Linked DNA regions of Homo sapiens: region 2 is linked to region 1. The links come from fine-mapping of genetic effects on gene expression. A gene starts in region 1. The other region holds a variant in brackets. All regions are shown on one strand. Distances are from middle to middle. Region 1 holds the start of NT5C1A (5'-nucleotidase, cytosolic IA). Region 2 overlaps HEYL (hes related family bHLH transcription factor with YRPW motif like).

Evidence for each region. PIP is the estimated chance that this variant, and not a neighbour inherited with it, causes the effect.
Region 2: its variant is the best candidate, but not a certain one, in a credible set for the expression of NT5C1A in cerebral cortex (GTEx, PIP 0.86).

What each region holds. Positions count from the first base shown.
Region 1 is chr1:39,669,597-39,673,983 of GRCh38, reverse strand. NT5C1A (5'-nucleotidase, cytosolic IA) reads left to right here and starts at 1,877. Exons shown (of 6, transcript NM_032526.3): 1 at 1,877-2,080. The coding sequence starts at 1,946. RefSeq lists a silencer at 1,685-2,094.
Region 2 is chr1:39,628,565-39,632,951 of GRCh38, reverse strand. HEYL (hes related family bHLH transcription factor with YRPW motif like) reads left to right here. Exons shown (of 5, transcript NM_014571.4): 2 at 237-303; 3 at 1,373-1,456; 4 at 2,644-2,725. Among named protein-coding and RNA genes, the nearest start is that of HEYL, 8.9 kb to the left of the region's middle. The variant A/G (reference allele first, on the strand shown) is at 2,571.

The DNA.
Region 1 (4,387 bases):
TCATCTTTTCAAGCCAATCACACAGATTAAAGGCCGCTGGACAGCATGGGGGTGGCTCACTTTTGTGTGAAGTGCCCACCTCCATCCAAGTAACCACTCTATGTATTCTTCCTGAGTTACTTCATCATTCTTCTCCATGAGGCACCTGAGAATAATTGACCTCATTCCTAGAGTTTCAATTATTTATTGCAGTGTAACAAGCTACCCCAAAACTTGGTGCCTGAAACAACAATTTATTATTTTTGATGATTCTGTGAGTTGGCTGGGCTCAGCTGGAAGGTTTTACTGCTTCAGGTTGTGTTGGCTGGCGTCACCCACATAGCTGCACTCCACTGGGAGCTGAGCTGGGGCTGGGACAGCCAGGATGGCCTCATTCACATGTCTGTCAATTGTGCCTATAGTCACCTGGGCTGTCGCTAGCTTCTTATCCTCCAGGTCCTATCTGTCTCACTACGTGGCCTTTCCAGCAGGATAGTCCAGACTTATTTACATAGTAGCTGGCTCCCAAGAGGGCAAAAATGGAATCTGCAAGGCCTCTTAAGACGTAAGCTTGGAAACCACAGAGCACCACTTCTACTCCATTCAATTGGTCAAAGCAAGTCACAGGGCCAGCTCAGACTGGACTCCACCTCTGAATGGGAGGAATGTCAAAGTCACATTTCCAAAGGACAGGCAGGATGGAAGAGGTTTTTGGGCCATCTCTGGAAACAATCTTCTAGAAGTAAGTCTAAACACACTTCCCCCAATCCTAACATTTTATTATGATTTTTCCCTTCCTCCCACACAAGGGTTGGTTTATTCCTCCCAGGACCTGGTGGAGGCTGAGGGGATCACTCCATTCTGTAGCCCCCTCACCTCCCCAGTCAGAGGCCCTCCTAGCTAAGCCAGTGTTTTCTCCTGCTTCTCCCACCCACCCATGCACACCTCTGAGAGAGGCTGTCTGCTTCCTGGCCTGTACCTTGGGATGGGTGACATTTGTGTCTGCACCCTGAGACTAGTACAGAGCTCTGCATCAAGAGGGACAACACCCTGGAATTCCAGGATGGTAGTTCCGAGGCCCCTCTTCTGCCCTCCCTCTATCCAGCCCCTTCATGGCCTATAACAAATCACCCCAAGCTGGGCAGGTGGGGGCCTAGGAATGCGCGCCCTCTGCTGACCACCAAAGGGCCAGCAAGAATTCGGGTTCAGAGTCCCTGGGAGTCTCTCTGGCCTGGGTCCCCACCCCAGGCCAAGGTCTCGACCTGAGACCACCCGAGCCTGGTCTCAACATGGACTTCAAGGGCCCCTCCTAGGTGGTGTGGAGGAGCTGCCGGGTTGGGCCCTTCACTGAGCTCCCGCTGGGAGCAGGCTTCTGCTAGTGAGAGGAGCCATCCATGCATCACCTCCTGCCCGTCTGCCGGATGGACTGGCCTCGGAGGGAAGGGGACATCGTCAGGATCCCAGGGTCCTAGCTCCTAAAGGAAAGATGGGCAGCTAGCTTTTGGGAGGGGAGCGGCTAGCTTTTCATTTTGTCCTTTGGGGATCACTATCCTGGGGGAAAAAAAAAGTTGTCAGGCCTCTCCTGTCTCCGCGCCCTGCAGCGCCTGCGAAGAACATCATTTTCGCAATCCCCAATCCGCTGCAGCCCACAAACCCAGAGAGCCAGAGAGCCCCCCTCACCACCCAACCGGCTGCTGGCGTGGGTCGGTCGGGGAAGGAGAGCCCAGCTATCCCTCATACCGTACAGCAGTAGCAGCAGCAGCGGCAGCGACACACGGGCGACCGAGAGGGCCAGTGTGACCTCCCCCCGCCCGGCGGGCGGGGAGCCCAGCTCACACGCACAGCCTCCTCGCCGCTGCCCGCCCCCTTCCCTCGCCGGGACTCGCCTCCCTCCTGCAGCCCAGCCCCAGCCACCTCCGCGTCTACGCCGCCGCCTGCTCTGGCCGGGCCGGGTCAGAGCCGGAGCATGGAACCTGGGCAGCCCCGGGAGCCCCAGGAGCCCCGCGAGCCCGGGCCAGGAGCGGAGACCGCTGCGGCCCCGGTCTGGGAGGAAGCCAAGATTTTCTACGACAACCTCGCGCCCAAGAAGAAACCCAAATCGGTAAAAGCAATGCACGGGTATGCGGGGGACGGGGGAAGGGTTACCCCGGAGGAGGGGTCATAAGTCTCTTGGGAAGGGACCCGTGGCGCCCCTCTGGGAGGGGACGCAGCTCCTCAGCCCCAGAATGCGCCCTGCAGCTGGCGCGGGCTCGGGTTTATTTTGGGAGCTCTGCTCTGGTGTATTTTTTTACCGGGACTCGGGTTCCACGCCAGGCTCCCCCTCCCCCATGCTGTCATCAGGGCCCAGCTAGAGGCCCGCAGCCCCAGCCCCTCCCCACTCGGGCCGCCGGGGAGCGCGGATTGCACTTGTTGGCGAAGCTGGTCCGCAGCGCTTCCAGAAGCGCCCCAGGCGCGGGTAACCAGACTTTGGGAACCCGGTTCCTGGCTGTGCGCTCCGGTCTCCGCCATCTGGGCATCGGGCTCCGGACCTGAGACTCTGCGTTTGGGGTCTGGCTCTGGGTCCTGGGCCCTGGGCTGGGGGCAGTGCGCTCCCCGCGTCCTAAGGAAAGGGAGCTGCTCTCTCCAGGCACTGGGATCCACACTCTGCGCTGGGGGGCGATCGGCGCCCCTGGCCGCAGGCTCCCAGCGCTGGACTCTGCCCCCCAGCTCGGGTTCTGCTCCCCTTGCAGTGGGCATTAACATCCCCACGACCCTGTGGTGGTGTCAACCGTCTGGGACCTCACAGAGGAGCTCTCTCCTCTCTGCCATCAAACAAGTTGATGATGCCCTGGTCTGCCCCTGGACCTTGCTGTCTCCAACTTCCCAGATCTCAGAGCTTGAGGAGAAAACCGAGAATAGAGGTTGGCCCACAGCGGTCCTCCAAAGAGCTCCAGCTTGATCTTAAAGCAATTTGCTGCTTCCCTCCAAGAACCCTTCCCCAACAGGTCCACCCTATCAGCAATCATTCAATTAGCACCTCCAAGCTCTGCTCAAGAGTGGGGATTGAAGAATTAAATAACCTGAGTCCCTGCCTCAGGAGCTCACTGCACAATGATGGAGGCTCCAGAGATGAGAGCCTAGGGGAGTTGGGGGGGGAGTAGAGTAGTGACATCACACTGGGGAAAGCTTTGTAGAAGTGGCACGTATCCTGATCTTAAAGCCTGAGTAGGTGGAGTTTCCCAGGGAGAGGGAAACAGGACAGGCAAAAGTCATGCAGATGTCTCTGAAGCTCAGGACTGTGTTCCTGAATAAGTACTGAATGAAGAATGCAGGATTGTTGGAAGAAGAGCTGGAGGGATGTGGAAGAGCCCACAGAGGGCCTTGGGGATCATGTTAAGGAGTCTGGACCTTACTCAAGGGGGTCAGGGATTTCCAAACTAGCTTCCCCAAGCCCCATGTTTCAGGGAGTCTGCACACATGTGAATCCAATTTATTTTCTTTCTTCTTCGGACTATGTTTTAAACAATTAAAAATGTGTAATAAAACCCAACTCACTCTAATGTATTAGGTGGACATTTTAGCAGCTTGAAGGCCACTAGCTTGTGCTGCAGATTTTTTTAAAGCAAAGCTCAGAATAAGGCTTCCCCTGTGATCTGTTCCATCAAAGAGCGTCTTGAGATTGTAAGGCCTTTAGTTTAAAACAAACCAAAACAAAAAACCTTTTAGCATTTCCAACCACTTATTGGTCTGAATCAGGACTTTCTCAATACTGTACAAATACAAACACAGCAACAACTTGGCCGGATGCTGAAGCTTAAGTCTGCACTGGCATTCTAGCCGCTAGTTTCAAATTTGTTGTCATGCAAACAACTGTGTTGTTTTCATTGGTTGACTTTATAATAAATAAATAAATAAATGTAATGCATTTGAATCTGTAAAATAAATAAACACCAATTATATATGTTATATCTGGTACCATATGGTATGAGATATATGGTAATATCTGGCTTACATATTGAATTCAAAGTTTATTTGAATTCATTTAAATAAAAGGTCAACCTACATTTAAACAAACATATGAATACCATTATGGAGCTATTACAGGATTTTTCATCAGGGGATTAACTGGGTCCCATTTTTATTTTAGAAAGATCACTCTGGGATGGATTGGAAAGGGTGAGTCCGGCAGCAAACCCACCAGTGAGAAGGCTGGTGCCTCTCTGAAGAGGAAGCTGGATGAATGTCAATGCTGTGGCCTGAGTGATGCAGAAGAAGGGATGGAGACTGGGGACTGGGGCAGTGAAAGCATCAGTGCTCAAAATCCATTTCCTCCCCAGGCACCAAGGAACCGGAGAGCTCAGGCCCAGTTGTCAGTCATGACCCCTGGATCAGCCCCTGACTCTCATGGTTCTCTGGGAGGCAAGAAGCC
Region 2 (4,387 bases), 41 kb after region 1:
GAGGAGCGAGGAGCGAGGGGCGAAGGGCGAGGCCGAGCAGGTCCGGACCAAGAGCCCAAAGTGGGCCCAGAGTGCATGAGAGGACTTGACCCGGGTTGAAATGAGCCCCCAGGAAGAAGGGGAGAGCAAGCTGCTCCTTCTAGGCCCAGCCTGTGGCTCCTCCTGGCCCGAGGTCGGCCCAGGCCGGGGAGACTGTCCCCCAGCCCTGAAAAATCAGCTTTTCTTTTCCTTTCCAGCCAGATGGCCAGGCCGCTGTCCACCCCCAGCTCTTCGCAGATGCAAGCCAGGAAGAAACACAGAGGGGTGAGTGTCCGTCTCAGCCTCTGAGTTGACCAACAAAGGGTTGCCATGAATCCCCTGCAGTCTGGCGGCGGGGAGAACCCTAGGCAGAAATTTCACCATGAAGCTAACTGCTTGGGTTCAAATCCCGGCTCTGTCACTAGCTATCAGGGTGATTCCAGGCAAGCCTGTTAACCTCTCTGAGCCTGATTTGCTCCTTTGTGTAACTGGAATAATGAGAGGGCCCACCTCAAAGGGCTGCTTTACAGATTAAGTGCATTAATGTAATGCTCTAAACAATAGCAGACACACAATAGGCCATTATGATTGTTGTTCCTATCTTCTGTCTCCTCTCTGAGTCCAGAACTTTCATCCCCCTCAGTGTGCCGGGGTGGGGGAGGGGACAGAAGAAGGATCCCCACTTGCCGCTGTCATCTGTCCATCATGTTCAGCCCCACTTTCCTCCCAGGATGCAGCTGTGTTTCTGCACTGGGAGTCCAGACACCTGGGGTCTGGCAGAGAGCAGCCTGACACTCACTGACTGTAAGCCCTTAGGCAAACCACTTCCTTCCAGCCCTCATTTTCCTTATCTGTAAAATGGGGTCATATCTGTCCTGCTCCCGGTGTTCTGCTACCAGTATTGGAGGGAAGAATGAGAGTGTGTGGGTGGAAGGGCCCTGCAGCTAGAGAGAGCAACACGTGGGACTCCCCAAACCATCTCATGACCTCACAGATGACGGGGTCACCCTCCTGGCCCAGCACGGGCCTCCAGGGCCTGCTCCAGCACCGTGGCTGGTGTCCTCATTGTGATTGGCTGTGCCCTGCTGTACCAGTGGTTAAACATCTTGAATATCACCCCTATAGACCGAGACAAGAGATCTGAGTTGTACTCCCAGCTCTGCGCTTTCTTGCTGTGTGACCTTAAGCAAATCACTGTCCTTCTCTGGGCCTTGGTTTTCTCCACCATAAAGTAAGACTAGATTGATCTCCCTCACAAAAATACTGTGTGGGTAAATATGAGTTGATGACCATCAAGGCACTTTGGAAACTGTGATGACACACCTGTGAGTAACTTCTTGTCATGATTGTTTAGATCATAGAGAAACGGCGTCGAGACCGCATCAACAGTAGCCTTTCTGAATTGCGACGCTTGGTCCCCACTGCCTTTGAGAAACAGGTATGTGACATTGCTGATTGTGCTAGAGGAAATACTGTGTGGGTGGCAGATAAGGTTCGTTTCTCATGGCATCTCTTGTTGATTGGTAGCAGCTGCCTGAGATGCTGTGATCATTTACCAATATCTGTCACTGGCCAGGGTAAAAGGAATGGAAATTTATACTTAGGTGTCTCAGGTGTCTTTATGTCTATCATCCCATTGAATTGACTCCTCAAAATGATCCCAAAGGTTAGGGATTATTATGCCCATGGCACAGGTAAAGAAACTGAAGCACAGAGAGGTGAAGTAACTTACACCAGATCACGCAGCTAGTAAATAGCAGGGCACAGGACTGTGTGATTCTCAAGCCCTCATCCCTCTGCACTACAGACATTTCTAGAGTGACTTGAAAGTGGAAAAGGCTGCTCAGGGAGTGAGCACTCTACCATTGAGCATGTTAGGTGGGGGAACTACAGCGGGGAATCAGACAGTGGACTCAGCCTCAGAAATTCTCACCCTATGCACCAAGGCATAGGTCACGGGTCCTCTGCCTTCCTTTATGCTGGTGAGAACAAGTCAGTCATCCCACAGATGTTCACTAAAACCATCACAGGACCAGCCATGAACTAGACCTAGTATCTGCCCTCAAGGGACTCCCATGGAGCCTCTGATCTTCAGGCTTCACCTGGAAAGCTTAGGAAGCATTTCCCAAGAGAGAAAAGAGGAAGAACAAGTGGTCTGGGGATAAGATGATGAGCTAGATCTTGGGCACATTGAGTCTGAAGTTGGATTCCCTGAAGAGCTGGTTTAAGAGGCATTCTGAGGATGGTGGCTAAAGCCATGGAGGTGACAAGCCTCTCTGCAGGGAGCAGCAGAATGCGAAGTGACACAGAAGGGACAGTACTGTGTTAAGAGACGGCAGATCAAGAGGCATGGTGAAAGGAGAGCCCAGAAACAGTGGTGTCGTGCAAGTCAAGGGAGGAGTGGTTTCAGGAAAGATGATCGGCAGCTGTACAGTGGACAGATGGTCTGAGAGGAGAACTGAAAAGAATGTTCTAGATTTGGAGAACTTGGCCAAAGCAGAAGCCCATTTGCAGGCAGCAGTGGAGTGGGAGGAAGGTGAGAAAATCGAGAC[A/G]GTGAGTGCTGATGACACCGCACAGCTACATGGTCAGCTGCAGGCTCCACCCTTCTGTCTTCTGTACCCGCAGGGCTCTTCCAAGCTGGAGAAAGCCGAGGTCTTGCAGATGACGGTGGATCACTTGAAAATGCTCCATGCCACTGGTGGGACAGGTACCCATGCTCTTCTCTTTCAGGCGTCATTCATACAACAAATATTTTGAGGCTGGGCCCTGGGGATATGCTGGTGAGCAAAGTCCACACGCTGCCCACTCTGAGGAGCTCAGTCAATGGAGGGAACATTTGCAAAGCTTCTCTCTCTCCTTTCAGCATCTCCCTCTCCACTTTCAGTGTCTCCATTTGTCGCAACCTTTTCCTCAGTTCAGCTCCCTCCAGTCTTAGACCTGGGAGGCGCTTTCTTCTGTAACAGACTGTTCCTATGGGTCCCACTCTTGTCCAACCCAGGACCTCATTAAGAATTCACCTGAATGAGCTAATTCTCACTGGGATCCCAATCTGACCCCCCTTAACCCAGGGAGGAGCCTGGTATCCTACCCACTGGTCTAGCCTTCTGGGCTACTGTGGGGTCCTTGGCAGAACTGGGGTGACATATCATGCTCACCACAGGTCTCAGGATTGTAGCAGGACACAAATTAACTCATTTTGTTATTTTAAGCCCATCAGTTACAATAAAGTAAGGGAACAGTGGCTTTAAAGACACTTCCAGACAAATAGAAATTCTGTCTACTCAAAGTTTCTCTGTGTATTTGGTGATTTCAAAATTGGGAAACCTTGAAAGCTCCACAGGCCTTGGCCACAAAGACCTAAGTTCCAGAGACCTAACTTACTGCTACAGAAGAGGACAGTAGCATTTTAAGTGGCCCATTCTGGTGCTTCTGAAGCCTCAGTGTATACCATTGTCACCTTGGGGCAGGCAGAATCAGGAGTCATCCCCCAGAGATTCTGAGGCAGTAGGTCTAGATTGAAGTTTAGGAGTTTGCAAGTTTAACAAGCCACCCAATTATCCTGGTGCAGGTGGTCCATTTGGGAACTTCTGCCAAAAAAAATGCATTGCTAAGAGTGGAGACTTCCATCTCTAATGAACCAATGGGGGAGATTCAAATTACATTTATGGTTATCCAGTGAAAAGAAAAGTAGTGACTAATATGTGGATATCATTTGACAGTTTTAAAATGCTTTCACTTGTGTTGTTTCATTTGATTCTCACAAGAACCTGCAAGATGGGGGTTAGTGTTACCACCATTTTCTGACTGTGAACTAATGGGAAGACAGAACTGTGGTTCACGGTATAGGCTTTAGATTTGAATCGGGCTCTACTGGTTACTAGCCGTATGACCTTAGACAAATGATTTAACCTCTCCCCTCCTCAGTTTCCTCATCTCTAAAATGGGAATAATTAGAGGGTTTTATGAGGATTAAATTAGATAACTTGATGAAATGCTTAGTAAGAATTCAGCAAATGTTAGAAAAAAACAGCGGGCCGGGCGCGGTGGCTCACGCCTGTAGTCCCAGCACTTTAGGAGGCCGAAACAGGCGGATCACAAGGTCAGGAGATCGAGACCATCCTGGCTAACACGGTGAAACCCCATCTCTACTAAAAATACAAAAAAAGAAATCAGCCGGGTGTGGTGGTGGGCGCCTGTAGTCCCAGCTACTCGGGAGGCTGAGGCAGGAGAATGGCATGAACCCAGAAGGCGGAGCTTTCAGTGAGTCGAGATCGCACCACTGCACTCTAGCCTGGGCGACAGAGCGAGACTCCGTCTCAAAAATAAAAGAAAAAGAAAAAGAAAAGAACAGCAAAGGCCAGGCGCAGTG